Regions from separate parts of the Homo sapiens genome. Here regions 2 and 3 are each linked to region 1. The links come from fine-mapping of genetic effects on gene expression. A gene starts in region 1. Each other region holds a variant in brackets. All regions are shown on one strand. Distances are from middle to middle.

The links.
Region 2: its variant is fine-mapped to the expression of SEC14L5 in whole blood (INTERVAL, PIP 0.91).
Region 3: its variant is fine-mapped to the expression of SEC14L5 in sun-exposed skin (GTEx, PIP 0.92).

Annotation. Positions count from the first base shown.
Region 1 is chr16:4,955,489-4,961,009 of GRCh38, reverse strand. It overlaps SEC14L5 (SEC14 like lipid binding 5), which reads right to left and starts at 2,680. Exons shown (of 16, transcript NM_014692.2): 1 at 2,565-2,680; 2 at 1,624-1,737. The coding sequence starts at 1,686. RefSeq lists an enhancer at 2,153-2,688 and silencers at 2,492-2,787, 2,586-2,795.
Region 2 is chr16:5,149,159-5,154,679 of GRCh38, reverse strand. No RefSeq gene overlaps it. Among named protein-coding and RNA genes, the nearest start is that of EEF2KMT, 54 kb to the right of the region's middle. The variant AAAAAAAG/G (reference allele first, on the strand shown) is at 2,620.
Region 3 is chr16:5,039,368-5,044,659 of GRCh38, reverse strand. C16orf89 (chromosome 16 open reading frame 89) reads left to right here. Exons shown (of 8, transcript NM_001098514.3): 8 at 182-538. The coding sequence ends at 312. NAGPA-AS1 (NAGPA antisense RNA 1) reads right to left here. Exons shown (of 2, transcript NR_038913.1): 2 at 1,689-2,565. Among named protein-coding and RNA genes, the nearest start is that of NAGPA, 8.1 kb to the right of the region's middle. The variant CG/G (reference allele first, on the strand shown) is at 2,879.

The DNA.
Region 1 (5,521 bases):
GTGAGCCACTGCACCCGGCTTAAGTTCAGCAACTTTCTAAAAACATACAACCAGAGCATGGCAGAGCACAGCAGAACCCTAAAGCATCTGAATTCACGTCCCTGGATCTCTTCACCATCCCCTGGTGTTCCACTCCCATTACGCAGAAGCAAAGTCACTCAGGCACTTGCAAAAACAGTAACGATCATAGCTGGATCTCAGTGAGCATTTGATCTGCGTCAGCCCCGTACCAGGAGCTTTATACACATTGACTCATTTAATCCACAGCATGACACCAGGATTTGGAAGCCAGGAGATTCCCATTGGTGATGGGGAGTGGAGGCTCATGGAGGTGAAGTGACTTGCCCCACAGTCACTCAGCTCGTCAATTGGGGAGCTAGAATATGACCCTAAGCCAGTTCCTGCCTCTTTGCTGTCCTAGAACCATCTGCCTGTAACAGCACAAGGTATGTGGATGATTTTGGTGATGCTTTTAAATCCTCTGTGTGACAATAAACATATACGCATGTAGATTCATAGAATAAGACAGGACTGGACACACAGGCACACACAGCCACCAAGAGATATGAAAGTCCCTGGATAGAAGGCTGGGGTTAAGCAGTCAGTGCTGGGGTGGGACAGATGGGGGTGGATGCTAATGTTTCTTACACTTTCAATACATTAATTTACAAGACTTCGGTGTAATAACAGCGACAGCATATTTTGTGAGCTCCTACTGTGTGCCCGGCACACAGCAAGGAGCACCAAGAACTATCTCATTTACTCCTCCCCGCAACCTTGTAGCATTGTCCCCATGTTACTGAGCAGGGAAGTGAAGTGCTCAGAGGCAGAGGGATGCAGCCAAGAAGGAATTCCACATCCACCTATGTCCAGCTTCTGCCCCCAGGGTGAAAAGACCAGTGATCCTGGGGGCCAAGGATCTGGCAGCCAATTCTAGGCCTCCAACTGACTTGCTGCACAACACAGAGTACATCACAAAGCAAACCTACCCACTCATTCTCTCTCTCGTCCCAGTGTCAGCTTCCTTAAAGGGGAGGGAAGGGGGTCTGTGAGCAGAAGGAGGGCTCTGTGGTCAAATGTGAGGTTCTAGAGTCTCCTTTGTGGGGATCTCAGCCCCGACTCCACCTCTGCGTAGATACAGAACTTAGTGTCATCCCTTCACCTGTCAAAGCCTCAGTTTCATGGAGGTTACATGGGAAAATAACAGCTATCGGGAATTGGAAGAAACATCATCTGTTAAGACAGTGCTGTAAACATTCAATAAACAGCTGTTGTCATTATCACCACCATTCCATTTATCACTGTGATATGCCATTATATGAAATGACAGCAGTGGCTTGGCCCCTGATACCTTTGTTTTCTATCAGGAGAGTCTAAAGTAAGGGAGCAGGTCAGCTTCAACAAGGAGAAGGAAGAAAGACTTTGTGTTTTGGTCACTGGGCCGAGGATAGGATGGTTGGACAGAGAGGTCACTGGATAGAAGTTAAACCCACCAGGTCAGCTGAGTAACTCACTAATTCCTTCTGATCTGGGAGTCTAAGGAGCTCCGTCTTCCTACCGCCATAGCTGATCTCAAGCCCCTCCAACTGTCACATGGGGGCCCAAGAATCAGGAGTCACTCACCGCCATGACCAGCTCAAACGGGTACTTGTAGACTCGGACAGGAGACTGGTATCTTTGCACCATGTTCACGCTGGAGCACCAATGGAGGTCACCAGGCAGGGGTGTGCACAGAGCCTGGGGCGAGGAGTGACTGGTGAGGTTGCAGCTCCCACCTCGGGAAGCAGGGACACCACCCACCAAGTGTAAGGGGCAGCCCCTGGCCCCACCCACACAGCTCCCCAGCCTTCAAATTGAGAAGGCTGATATTCCCCCCAAATTACTCCAGGCCAAGCCCCAACAGCTTCCCTGTCATTAGCCATGGCCCCAGACCACGCTCAGCCTTCCAAGAGCAGTCAGCACCCCCAAACTTTCCTCTACCCCCACCCCTTCACACTGAGGGCCCCCAGAAGCCTTACGGCCACCCACACAGACACACACACATTTGCAATTCTTACACTCCCACGGTTCTATTCACGCATGCACCCCGCAGCTTGCCACAGACTTGCTGGCCTACAGCCCACCCCCGAGTCTCCTTGCACCTGCCCTCCCATTTTCCTCCCAGACACCCTGACATACACACACAGCCTTCACCACATTTCACAGGCACTGTCTCTATCACACACATGTACACACGCAGGTTTCCCTCCCACACGGGACTGCTTTTGCACACGCCTCCAACTTTGCACACACACCCTGAAACACGCACCTGCCCAGCTCCACGCACGCAATTCCCCTGGTGTGCACAGACGTGCACACACGCACACACACCCGTGCGCACATGCACACACACGTACACACACGTAGAGGCAATCGCACACGCATGCACACACAGGTCCCCGCAGCTTTGCTCACCCTCGCCCTCGGGAGCCTTTGGGAATGCAGCCTAGGGGAAGTGCCCTGGAAGCCCGCCTGGCTCGGGAGCTGAGCGCTTACCCGCGCCCGCCTGGCCTGGAGCGCAGTACCTGAGGCGGGGCCCGATCGCGGATCTCTAGCCTGGTGTGTCCCGCCTTGAACACCCTGCGGCCAGGACAGCTGTGGAAGGCCGGAGGGGCGGGAGCGAAACCTGCCGGGCCGAGAGAGCTCCAGGACCCGGGACAGCGGAGATCCTGGCCTGGCCCCGCCCCTGACCTGGTCCCGCCCACGTCCCCGGCCATGGCCCCGCCCAGGTTGGCCCTGCCCCCTAACTGGTCCCGCCCCACTCTGGCCCCGCCCCAGGCGAACTCCCCCTGGTTCTAGCCCCGCCCCTTATTTTTAGATGTCGCTTGTTTGACCACGCCCTCAGCCCAGTCCTTTCTCTAGATTGGTCACACCTCAGGAAGTCCCCTCCCCCTTCACTGGCCCCGCCCTCCAAGGCCCTCAGCCTCGGGGAATGGTAGGCCACAGGACGACCCCGCCCTAATCTAGCTCTGCCTCCAAGCAGACCCTGAGTCCGGGCCGACCCGCCCCGGACCCTGCGTCTGGCCGACAGTACTGTTTACATTTGTAGATAAGCAGAATTTACGCTTTTCTTGCTCAGATTAACCTCGCCCTCGTCCCGCTGCACTTGGGTCTGACTGGCTCCTCCACCTGTCCCCGCCCCACGGCCCGCGCATGCACCTTCGCCCACTCTGCACACCTTCACAGAGCGCCTGCTGGGGGTCAGCCCTGTCCAGGCGCTGGAGAGCCGCCGGTGAGCCACACGCACGAATCCCTGCCCTCGTGGAGTTTATACTACGGTGGGGAGACAGACACTCAATAAATAAGGCAAATATATGATGTGTGAGGTAGTGAAAAACTCTAACGAGAGAAAAATAAGCAGGAAAGGGGCTCAAGGAGCCAGCGGAGAGAAAGGACAATTTAAAACAGGTAAGAGGCCGGGCGCCATGTCTCACGCCTGTAATCCAAACACTTTAGGAGGCGGAAGCGGGAGGACCGCTTGAACCCAGGAGTTGGAGACCACCCTGGGTAACATAGCAAGAACCTATCTCTACAAAAAAATTTTTTTTTAGTTTAGGCAGGGCGCGGTGGCTCACGCCTGTAATCCCAGCACACTGAGAGGCCAAGGCAGGCAGATCAGCTGAGGTCAGGAGTTCGAGAACAGCATGGCCAATATGAGGAAACCCCGTCTCTACTAAAATACAAAATTAGCCGGGCATGGTGGCGTATACCTGTAATCTCAGCTACTCGGGAGGCTGAGGCAGGAGAATCGCTTGAATCAAGGAGGCGGAGGTTGCAGTGAGCCGAGACTGCGCCACTGCACTCCAGCCTGGGCAAGAAGAACAAAGCTCCGTCGCAAAAAAAAAAAAAAAAAATTAGCCAGGCGTGTTGGCACGTGCCTGTGGTCCCAGCTACTCAAGAGGCTGAGGCAGGAGGATCCCTTGAGCCCAGAAGTTCAAAGCTGCAGTGAGCTGTTACCTGGCCACTGCACTCCAGCCTGGGCAACAAAGCAAGACTCGGTCTCAAAATAAATAAGTAAATAAATAAATAAAACAGGGAGTAAGGGGGCCTCCCTTGGGAGAGTGACATTTGTCCATCACTCTCATTTTAACTCACACTTAACCCCTTTCAGCCCTCCCAGGACTCCCAGGGGACCAACCTTGCTCCCAGAAGTCCTGCCTTGCCACTCCTCATCTGTTTAGCCTACAAGACCCAAGAAATTGGCTCTGGACAGTGCTGTCATCCATGTATTCACTCATTCAACATTTACTGAGCACCTACTACGTGCCACCGTGGGGTGAATTCACCCCTTCAAGCAGGGGAAGTCAGAGGTGGCCAGGGAGATGGACAACCCCTGATATATTTCAAGTATGTCACTGCACCCTGTGAAAATCACCTCTCTTCCCTTCCTAGCCTGCATCACATTCTAATATTGCATTTATTCGTTTTATATATCTGTGGGTTCCTGGAGGTCTCTCTCAGGAGACTGTGAGCTCCCTGAGGGCAGGGGCAGTGGCTGCCTTATTCAGCTGCCCGCATGTTGGGAAGGATCTTACTGGGGACCTGGCAGGCAGGCAGCAGGTGCCCAGCAGACTCTTGGCTTAGGTAATCAAGGGCGGAAATGGGACACAAAGTTCCCATCCCTGTCGCAAGGTGGCAGCAAATGATAGCCCATGGCTCCTGGAGTAACACAAGGGTGAGTAGGTGGGGGACATGGGATCCAGGGATGACTGTCCTAACCCGGGCTCATCCAGGAAATGCCCAGCTCTGCCCAGGCATCGCCACAGAGCAAAGTGAACGTTAACACCGTTAGCTGCTGTTACCACCACGAAAGGCGTTAAGTCCGCCTCTCCTGCTGCCCAACATTGAGGGAGGACAATGACTGCGTGGGAGACAGAGGTGTGACAGCCCTGCGGGTACAGAGAGCTCAAAGTGGAAACTGGGGCCTGGAGGGGAGTGAGAACCCCACTCCCTCCTCCTCCAGCCCCAGGGAAGGGAATTAATAACGCCACCAACACTCACTCCAGCTTTTTTTGGGTTTTGGGGTTTTTTTTTTACGTGGAGTCTTGCTCTGTTGCCCAGGCTGGAGTGCAGTGGCGCAGTCTCGGCTCACTACAACCTCCGCCTCCCAGGTTCAAGCAATTCTCCTGCCTCAGCCTCCCGAGTAGCTGGGATTACAGGCGCTTGCCACCACACCTGGCTAATTTTTGTATTTTCAGTAGAGACAGGTTTCATCATGTTGGCCAGGCTGGCCTCAAACTCCTGACCTCAGGTGATCCACCCGCCTCAGCCACCCAAAGTGCTGGGATTACAGACATGAGCCACCACACCTGGCCCAGTTGCCTATTATTACTGTTCTACTAATTATTCCTACCACTTGTTGACACTCCATTGGCGCTTACTATACCTAGCACCATTCTAAAGCTTTACAAACACGAATGCATTTAATCCTCAAAGCAACCCCAGAGCAATGAAAATGTCTTGGAATGTGATAGAGGTGGTG
Region 2 (5,521 bases), 190 kb before region 1:
GCTGGAGTGCAGTGGTGTGATCTCAGCTCACTGCAATCTCCATCTCCTGGGTTCAAGCGATTCTCCCACCTCAGCCTCCTGAGTAACTGGGATTACAGACACGCACCACCATGCCCAGCTAATTTTTGTATTTTCTTTAGTAGAGACAGGGTTTCACCATGTTGGTCAGGTTGGTCTTGAACTCCTGACCTCTGATCTGCCCACCTCGGCCTCCTAAAGTGCTGGGATTATAGGCGTGAGCCACCGGCTCACGTATACTGTAACTGTATATTGAAAGTTTTTTTTTTAATAATTAACAGGTTTAACAGAATGTGTCTCCTAATCTATTCCTTTCACTGCGGACATCTATTGCTTTTTCAGCCTAGCAGCCCTCCCCTCTATGGAGACTCACACTTCCTACTCCAGTCACTTGGCTGTCATGGGGGCTGCCATGTTCTCACATGACTCCACCCCTCTGGCCTCAGTTGATTGGTCCAGGGATGAGCATCTGGCCTAAATTGGCCAATCAGAATTCTTCCCTTGAATATTTTTCCAAACTGGCACTAGACCAAGTTAATCATTCTCTGTGATGACAGGAACTGTGTGTAGTGAGAAATACAGGAGCTTTTGTGGCCACATTTCTTGCCTTATGGAGAAAAGGCTTGAGTAAGAAGAAATTAAGCCAGTATGCAGACAAAGCTAGAAACAGAGATGGAGAGAGAGATCTGATGGTGTCTCCATCCAGAGATGGAGAGAGAGATCTTGTGGTAAGCCCCCTGGTTTTTATCATTCTAGTACATGCTTGCTACTGCATACAACCAAGACTTTCACCTGAGGGCCTTCTCAAAGTTAGGCATGGAGTATGTCAGAAAAGCCACAGAAGCCGGGCGCAGTGGCTCACGCCTGTAATCCCAACACTGGGAGGCCGAGGCAAGTGGATCACGAGGTCAGGAGTTCGAGACCAGCCTGACCAACATGGCAAAACCCCGTCTCTACAAAAAATAAAAAAATTAGCGGGGCAGGGTGGCAGGCGCCTGTAATCCCAGCTACTCAGGAAACTGAGGCAAGAGAATCGTTTGAACCTGGGAGGCAGATGTTGCAGTGAGCCGAGATCATGCCATTGCAGTCCAGCCTGGGTGACAGAGCAAGACTATGTCTCAAAAAAAAAAAAAAAAAAGAAAAAAGAAAAGCCAGAAAGTTGATGCCCTGGGACCACTCCTCAGCCAGTGACAGATGGGAGCCAGGCTATAAATGCTTCAGTATCTTTGCCCCCTGGATGGAACAACTTTGAAATGTATTCCACATCACCTCCCCGAGGTCCCCAGTGGGGTCAAATCCTAGTTGCCTGGAATGGTAAGCTGCTCATTAAAGCCCCCTCTGTGGCCTCCTGCCTTTCCATGAATCAGTTCCTCACTCCCCTTTTGGTGTTCCCTAGAATCATCTCCTAAATAATCCACTTGCAATCCTGTCCCTCTTTCAGGATCTGCTTGGGGTTGGGGTTGGGGAGTGCAGACCAAAACATGATCCCTTTTCCACTCCACACTAGTAAGATGAGTTTCTGTCACTGGCAACCAAGAGTTCTGACTATTACCTCCCTCTGAGATAATTTCTAAAATGTATTTGGGAATTTCCCCACCTCTACCCCACTGCCTATGTCATCAATATGTAGATTTCTTAACAAAGTTTATTGGTATTCTTTGATCAACCTCAAGTTTCACAAAGCACACTGCACTTTCATAAGGGATCCCCATGACTGACAGATCAGCCATTCAAAAGAAGGGAAGTGTCAGAGATGGCTCTGCTAGACTCACGTATTCTTTGGTAGAATCTGGGTCAGGATGGTATGGTTGGGAGATGCTTCTGGAGCTCTGGGACCCACAAGCCTGTGTGTCCCATGGTGGAGTATTAGGACAACTTGAAAACATAGTGGCAGGACGAGGCTTCCTCCCTCCCCTGCAGTCCATCCTCCACCACACCGAACGTGCTCAATAGATATTGGTTAAATGAATAATGGGGCCAGGCATGGTGGCTCACGCCTGTAATCCCACCACTTTGGGAGGCTGAGGCAGGTGGATCACCTGAGGTCAGGAGTTCAAGATCAGCCCGGACAACATGGCAAAACCCCGTCTCTACTAAAAATATAAAAATTAGCCAGGTGTGGTGGTTGGCGCCTGTAATCCCAGCTACTTGGCAGGCTGAGGCAGGAGAATCACTTGAATCTGGGAGGCGGAGTTTACAGTATGCTGAGATGGCACCACTGCACTCCAGCCTGGGCAACAGAGCGAGACTCAAAAAAAAAAAAAAAAAAAAAAAAAAAAGAATAATGGATTTATTCCTTTCAAACTGCAACTCACCAAAAGAAGACCAAGACGCATCACAATGTTGTGGCCACAATCACCACAGTGACGATAATGAATATAATCAACTCTCGAGCCAGCCACGTCCACTAAACCTAGCGGATCACATCTGGTGTTTCACTTTGAGGATGTTTTAGTGGTCATGGTAGATGGTTGCCTGACTGCTGGCTGTTTCTACTGTTTCAGGAATATAGAGATGTGTACGCATGACCCCTAAAATTAATTAGTGTGCAATTCTCAAAGAGCCAAACTCTACCCCAAAAGCTACTGGAAGGAAAAAAAA[AAAAAAAG/G]AGAGTTTTAATTCTCAAAGAGACAAACTAGATAGTAAAAGCATTTATGTTCCCTTTGAGAATCTTCCCACCAAGGACTCAAAGTGGTCTCCAGACCAGGGAATGCCTGGGGCCTTGGACATTCCCAATTCTGGTATCACCTCCCATTCTCCTTTAGGTCCAGTTTTCTCAGAGGAGCATACATTGTTCATTGCCACCAAGGGTATCCAAGGACACAAACTGAAGATAATAGTGCTTTATTGTCTCTCAGTCATCTGTCTCTCCCACATGCTGGAAGGAGAGCCAAGTCCAATTTATCCAATTACAAAATAGCAACATTGGCATCATGAGATCAGCTAACAAAACTTTCAGAGGCAATCTATCTTCCTACCAAAAGTAACCAACATCTGTGGAGCACTTACCATGACTAAGGGACAACGTAAGTGGTTTGCATGCTGCATGTGTCAGGATGGACTACGTTATGCTGCAGTAACAAATTAACCCCAGAGTCTCAGCAGCTTAGCAACCAAGGTTGATTTCTTACATACCATGTCCACAATGGGTTGGCTGGGTATGGTGTCCTCCATATGGCCCCTCAAAGACCTAGAATGATGGAAATTCTACCATCTTAATGCAGGGATTCTCCCATAGTTACTGCACCAGGAGATGAGAGAATGAGATAGTTATTCCCAAGCCCTCAAAAGCTGTACACTAGAGGTGATGTCAGTGACTTCCACTTATAGAGCATTGGACCCTGGCATGGATCCATCTAACTATTGGAGATCTGGGGAATACGGGGAGCACATGGAAATCCCATGAGCAGTAACCATTCCTGCCAGCATGCATTATTTCATCTGAACCTCACAACCCCATGGAATATATAACAGAAGCTTGGAGAGTGATCGGACCTGCCCCAAGGCGTCACAGATAATGAGTTGCAGAGCTGACATATGACCCTCGGCCTGGCAGGATTCAAACCACTACGCTGCATACTCATCACAAAATTCTACGAAATTCCTCATACAGCAAAACACCACACCAAGTGAAAAGAAAGCCAAGTTGTGCAAATACACAATAGAACTCCCCTGACACTTCACCTCCTCACCCACCCCACCCCCACCGAAAGAATCTACCCACACAAATAGCTGGAAGAAATTCTCAGGCAATTTCAGCAGGGGAAATGGGGTTATCTCATCTGGGTCTCACATCCGACCTCGTCAAGACAAGACCTTCCCTAAACTTCACCTGAACACCTGGACACACCGTCATGTCTTGCCGCTTCTTGTTACTAGAAATCCAATGATGACATCTTTATACAACGTACAGGTCTTTCTATAAGTGCCAAGATAAATGTCATCCCTGTACCTGCATATCATTCAGAGGTAGGCAAGCTTCTATGTAAAGTGCTAGACAGTAAATATTATCAGCTTTGCAGGACTCATCTGATCTCCATCCTATATTCTTTTTTTGTTTTTGTTTTTGTTTTTTACAATTTTTTTCTTTTTAGTTAGGGTCTAAAAAGAAAATAAAACTTATCCATGGTGTGATATGAACGTTAAATACCTGCTCACTGAACGAAGCAGACATGAAAGGTCATATATTGTACAATTTCATTTATATGCAATGCTCAGACTAAGCCAATCAACAGAGACAGAAAGTAGATGAGAGGTTTCCAGGGGCTGCAGGAGGGGGTATGCAGAGTGACTGCTGAATCGGGTATGAGGCTTCCAATTGAGGTGTTGAAAAAGCTCTGAAACTAGGAAGTAGTGATAATTGCACAACATGATAATTGTACAGAATGTCACTGAATTGTACACTTACAGCTGTACAAAATGGTAAATGTTGCATATATTATACCACAATTTTATTCATTTATTTTAGAGACAGAGTCTCACTCCGTCACCCAGGCTGCAGTGCAATGGCACAATCATAGCTCACTGCTGCCTTTACCACCTGGGCTCAAGCAATCCTCCCACCTAGTCTTCCAAGTAGCTGGGACTACAGGTGAACGCTACCACACCCAGGGTTTTTAATTTTTTTATAGAGTTGCATTCTCAGTATATTGCCCAGACTGGCCCAAACTCCTGGCTTCAAGCGATTCTCTCATCTCAGCCTCCCAAAGTGCTGGGATAACAGATGTAAGCCATCGCGCCAGGCAATTTTTAATTCTTATGCGAAATTTTCAAGTAATAAATTCCTAGGATTAAAAAAATGTTGATCAACATGGGGATTAGAGGAAAAAATAATTTTAAACAAGAGGAAAAATTAAATGAGATGATGTACATGTGTACAGTGCCTGGCCTCATGATCACTGAGTCCACTGCAGTTTTTTTTTTTTTTTTTTTTTTTTTTTGAGACAGGGTCTCACTCTGTCACCCAGGCTGAGTACAGTGGCATAATCACGGCTTACTGCAGCCTCAATCCCCTGGGCTCAAGTGATCCCCCCACCTCAGCCTCTCAAGTAGCTGGGACTACAGGTGCACACAATCACACCTAGCTATTTTTGTTGTTGTTGTATTTTTGGTAGTGACAGGGTCTCACCATGTTGCCCAGGCTGGTCTCGAACTCCTGGGCTCAAACGATCTTCCCACCTCAGCTTCCCAAAGTGCTGGGATTACAGGTGTGAGCCACCGTGCCCATCCTGTTGTAGCCACTTTAATAGTGCTGGTGAACAATAATTTGCTCTCCCTATAAAAACAGGACATACTAAGCCAAGGAAAGCACCAATCTAGTTTGTTCTCCCCAGATCTTCAAAATGTTGGAATTAGTATAAGAGTCCAAAATATTTCACAAGGATTTTTTTTTTTTTTTTTTTTTTTTGAGACGGAGTCTCATTCCGTCGTCCAGGTTGGAGTGCAGTGGCACAATCTCGGCTCACTGCAACCTCCGCCTCCCGGGTTCAAGCAACTCTCCTGC
Region 3 (5,292 bases), 84 kb before region 1:
ATGTTGCTCATGCTGGTCTCGAACTCCTGATCTCAAGAGATCCGCCCACCTCAGGCTCCCAAAGTGTGGGATTATAGGTGTGAGCCACCGCGTCTGGCTGAAAAGCACTTTCAATGAGACTGTGTTGAATAAAGGGCCAAGGTTCTTGCCACCCAGCACTCATGGGGGCTCTCTCCCCTAGATGGCTGCTCCTCCCACAACACAGCCACAGCAGTGGCAGCCCTGGGTGGCTTCCTATACATCCTGGCAGAATACCCCCCAGCAAACAGAGAGCCACACCCATCCACACCGCCACCACCAAGCAGCCGCTGAGACGGACGGTTCCATGCCAGCTGCCTGGAGGAGGAACAGACCCCTTTAGTCCTCATCCCTTAGATCCTGGAGGGCACGGATCACATCCTGGGAAGAAGGCATCTGGAGGATAAGCAAAGCCACCCCGACACCCAATCTTGGAAGCCCTGAGTAGGCAAGGCCAGGGTAGGTGGGGGCCGGGAGGGACCCAGGTGTGAACGGATGAATAAAGTTCAACTGCAACTGACCCAGGGTTGAGTCTTGTTTCTCAGCTTTGAGGACAACCTTGGACAACCTCTTGGTCTGTTTCAACTCTCCAATCCCACTCAACACAAATTCTTTTTTCTTTTTTCCTTTTTTTTTTTTTTTAATTAATAGATGAGGTCCTGCTCTGTCACCTAGGCTCACTGCAGCCTCAAACTCCTGGGCTCAAGCAATCTTCCCATCTCACCTCCTGAGTAGCTGGGACAACAGGTGTATGCCACCATGCCAAGCTAACTTTTAAATTTTTTGTAGAGATGGGATCTCACTACATGGACTTGGCTGGTCTCGAACTCCCGGCCTCAAGTGATCCTCTTGCCTTGTCCTCCCAAAGTGCTGGGATTACAGGCATGAGCCACTGCACCCAGCCACAAATTCTAAAAAGACCCATAAACTGATATCTTAAAGGCTATTTGTTCAGGTACCAAATATAGTATCTTTCCCAGTGGGAGAAGGAAGGGTCTTGGAAAAAATAGTTCAGGTCATGAGCCAGAACTCAACAGATAACCCTGAAAGGCAGCACATACTCATTTTTACATCCTGAGCACAAAACTCTGCTGTATCATTACATTGCATCACATGGCCATCATGTCATTTTACAAAACACAGTATAGCATAGCGGTTGATGGTGTGGTTCTGTGGCCAGGCTGCCTGAATTCAAGTCCTAGCTGTCTGTGTCCTTGAGCAGTCACCAACTTCTCTGGGACTCAGTTTTCTCATCAGTAAAATTGCGATAATAATAACCCCTACCTTGGAAGGGCACAGTGGCCCGCCCCTATAATCCCAGCACTTTGGGAGGCTGAGGTGGGAGGATCGCTTGGATTCAGAAGTTCGAGACCAGCCTGGGCAACATAACGAGACACCTCCCCACCAACCCTCACTGGGTGCAGTAGTGAACACCTGTAGTCCCAGCTACTCGGGAGGCTCACTTGAGGAGGGAGGATCACTTGAGCCCAGGAGTTCAAGGCTGCAGTGAGGTATGATTGCACCACTGCACTCCAGCCTGGGTAACAGAGTGGGAGTCAAAAAAAAAACAAAACCCAGCCCCTACCTCAATGTTACCTCCACTGCTGTGAGTATTGTGTTTCTAGAATACTGGAAATGGTGCCCGTAACATACTAAGTGCCAAGTAAACGTTACCTGCTGCCTCAAGTGATGACGTCCCATTAAGTGGGGGCTCCTCCGGAAGCTGCCAGAAGAGGCCGCTGCCTTGTCATCGGTTCTCTGGTTCCCAGCTTACAGCTCTTCCCTCGAGCTCTGACTCAGTGTGACTATATCTGAATGTGTTCCCTGGAGCTCTGACACTAATTTAGCAATAAAACCTTCTGGGACATTATGATGGGTTCTGGTGCTGTCTGTGGTGCTGATGACAGCCTGCACGCATTGGACTTTGGGGTAGAAAAACCAGCTGAAAACCCGGTCCCGGGGCTGCAAACCTCTTTACACGCATTGTCCTGCTTTGCCTCAAGGTGGAAAATCGCCACGGATCATCCTCATGTGGCAACTCAGTCATATGTGAGCATCCGAATGAAAATATCCTTGGCTGCTTCTGTGCCCAGCTGAGCAGCCCAGGTGGGTGGTGGGGCGCATGGTTCTTCTCGATCTTTCCTTTAGGAGGTAGGTTTCCCTTGACCTGATCCTCTGCTGCGGTCCTCTGAATGCCTTCCCATGATTGCTCTTAACTTGTCAGGCCTCGAGGAACATCCCTGGATTCTGCTGACAAGTTTGACTTGCTATCTGCAAGTTGCTGTTTTCTTGGGGGAACCAAGGGCCAGAATGTCATATCCACCCAGCAGTCTGTGAGCTTTAAGGATTTCTTTCACATTGTCTTGCAAACAAAAGTTTTCCCAAACAGGCACACCATCTTGAGAGAAGTCAGCCGCACATAAACAAATTGGGGGGATTATGCTCCACCTCTGTGCTTCCTGAATTGGGGATGGAGTCCTCACTGGAGCCTGACACTGGTTCATTTCAGAAGGCTTCAGTTACCAAACCAGGGAGAGGGTGAAATGACTGTGGAGGAAAGCGGAGCGTATGAGTCACTTTCAAGGAAAGGCAATCCTTGGCTCATGCCTATAATCCCAGCACTCCTGAACGGTGAGACCATACATTTCTGTGGTTTAAGCCTCCCAGTTGATGGCACCTTGCTACAGCAGCCCCAGAAACTAATGCAGCACCTGCCTCAAGGAGCTGTTCCTAGTCTCAGCAACAAGGTCCCTGCAGCCCAACCACACCCGTGGGGAAGCAGATGACCCGTCCTGATGACCTGGTTCACAGCCTGATCCTCTATTTAAAGGATCGATGTGAAACCGAAAATTAAAAAAAA[CG/G]TTCTCAAGGTGGGCGGATCTCTTGAGGTCAGAAGTTCAAGACCAGCCTGGCTAACATGGTGAAACCCCATCTCTACTGAAAATACAAAAATTAGCCATGCGTGGTGGCTCTCGCCTGTAATCCCAGCTACTAGGGAAACTGAAGCAGGAGAATCGCTTGCACCTGGGAGGCAGAGACTGCCGTGAGGGAAGATCATGCCACTGCACTCCAGCCTGGGTGACAGAGCAAGACTCCATCTCAAAAAAGCAAAAACAAACAAACACAAAAAGAACTTTCTCAGTGGCATGCCACAGCCCAACTGTAGCCCAAAAACTCCCTGGAATTTATCCACTCAGCACACACATCCAGCCCACATGGAGTTCACGTCCCTTGCAAGGCTCTCCTATCTTTCTGAATACTTTTCCCCTGACATCCACGTGGCTCACACTCCACTTTGCCCCAGTCTCTGCTCAAATGCCCTCTCATATGACCAGGCGCAGTGGCTCATGCCTAGAATCCCAGCACTTTGGGAGACCGAGGTGGGCGGATTGCCTGAGCTCAGGATTCGGAGACCTGCCTGGGCAACATGAGAAAAATCCATCTCCACAAAAAAACACAAAAATCAGCTGGGCATGGTGACCCGTGCCTGTGGTCCCAGCTACTTGGGAGGCTGAGGCAGGAGGATCACTTGAGACTTGGGAGATTGAGGCTGCAGTGAGCTATGATCATGCCATTGCATCCCAGCCTGGGTGACAGTGCGAGAACTTGTCTCAAAAGAAAAAAAGAGGGAACCCTCCAAAGGGCTTGAAACAAAACTCGAGGTCAAGACAAGGAGCACCCACAAATGAGTCAATGGTTCTCCTCGTTGGAGCAGAACAGCTCCTGACAGCCTCCTGTTCAAGTAGCACAGAGAGCAGAAAAACCAGTCACAGGCAGATTGTTTGGAGCGGGTGGGAGGAAGACAGGGAGGAAAGGAGGCTTGGGACTTGGAGTTAAATGAGAGAGGGATGGAAAAGCAGGTTCCCCCGGCACAAACCCCACCTCAGGGCTTCATCAAGGCCTTCTTTCCCTGCCCCCCAAATACACACCCCGAGAGAGAGGCCCTCATTGGTGGAAGCACCCAGCCCACGGTGGCTCTATGTGCCCCTGCCACAATCCTTGGTCAAAAGTGCATTCCTTCCGGCTCCCGGCTCAAGGTATAAAATCCTACTGTAAACAAGTAATTCCATTAAGTCATCATGTTCTTAAAGTTTTTCCTTTTTTTTTTTGAGACAGGATCTGACTCTGTCACCCACGCTGGAGTGCAGTAGCATAATCTCAGATCACTACAACCGCCACCTCCTGGGTTCAAGCGGTTCTCCTGCCTCAGCCTCTTGAGTAGCTAGGATTACAGGCACGTGCCACCACACCCGGCTAATTTTTGTATTTTTAGTAGAGACAGTGTTTCCCCATGTTGGCCAGGCTGGTCTCGAACTCCTGACCTCAGGTGATCCACCCGCCTTGGCGTCCCAAAGAGCCGAGATTATAGGCATGAACCAGCATGCCTGGCCCTTTTTTTTTTTTTTTTTTTTTTAAAGAGACGGGGGTCTTGGTGTGTTGCCCAGGCTGGCCTGGAACTCCTGGGCTCAAGCAATCCTCCTGCCTCTGCTGGGATTACAGCCATGAGCCACCATGCCTGGTTGAAAGTGTTTCCTCTTAAGATGTAAATATACACAGGAAACGGAATGAGTTAAGACTTTCTCCATCATGTAGCTTTAGTGTGAAGGAGTTGTGAGAACAGTATCTGCAGAACTGTTGCTTGGAATGAGGTCTGAGAGAGCAAGAGAGGGCGGGGAAGGGATTGGTGAGAGCTGGGGCGAGTTCAAGCCACCCTTTCATGACTGCTTCCCCACTCCCATCTCTCAGTGGCTAAGCTTCTGCCCCCTCACCCACCAGAGCCAGGAAGACTGACTTGGGCAATGTCCCACCAGTATCCTTGCTTTTTCTGGGTCTTCACCTATTCTCTTTCTTTCTCATTTTTTATTTCCATAGATTTTTGGGGAATAGGTGGTATTTGGTTACGTGAGTGGTGATTTGAGAGATTTTGGTACACCCAGGACCTGAGCAGTATACACTGAAACCAATTTATAGTCTTTTATCCCTCACCTCCTTCCCATTCTTCCCCACCCGAGTTCCCAAATTCCACTGTAACTTTTTTTTTTTTTTTGAGGCTGGAGTGCAGTGGTGGTGCGATCTCGGCTCACCGCAACCTCCGCCTGCTGGGTTCAAGCAATTCTTGTGCCTCAGCCTCCTGAGTAGCTGGAATTACAGGCACGCGCCACCACACCCGGCTAATTTTGGGGGTTTTTTTGTTTGTTTGTTTATTTGAAACAGAGTCTTGCTCTGTCCCCCAGGCTGAAGTGCAGTGGTGCGATCTGGGCTCACTGCAACCTC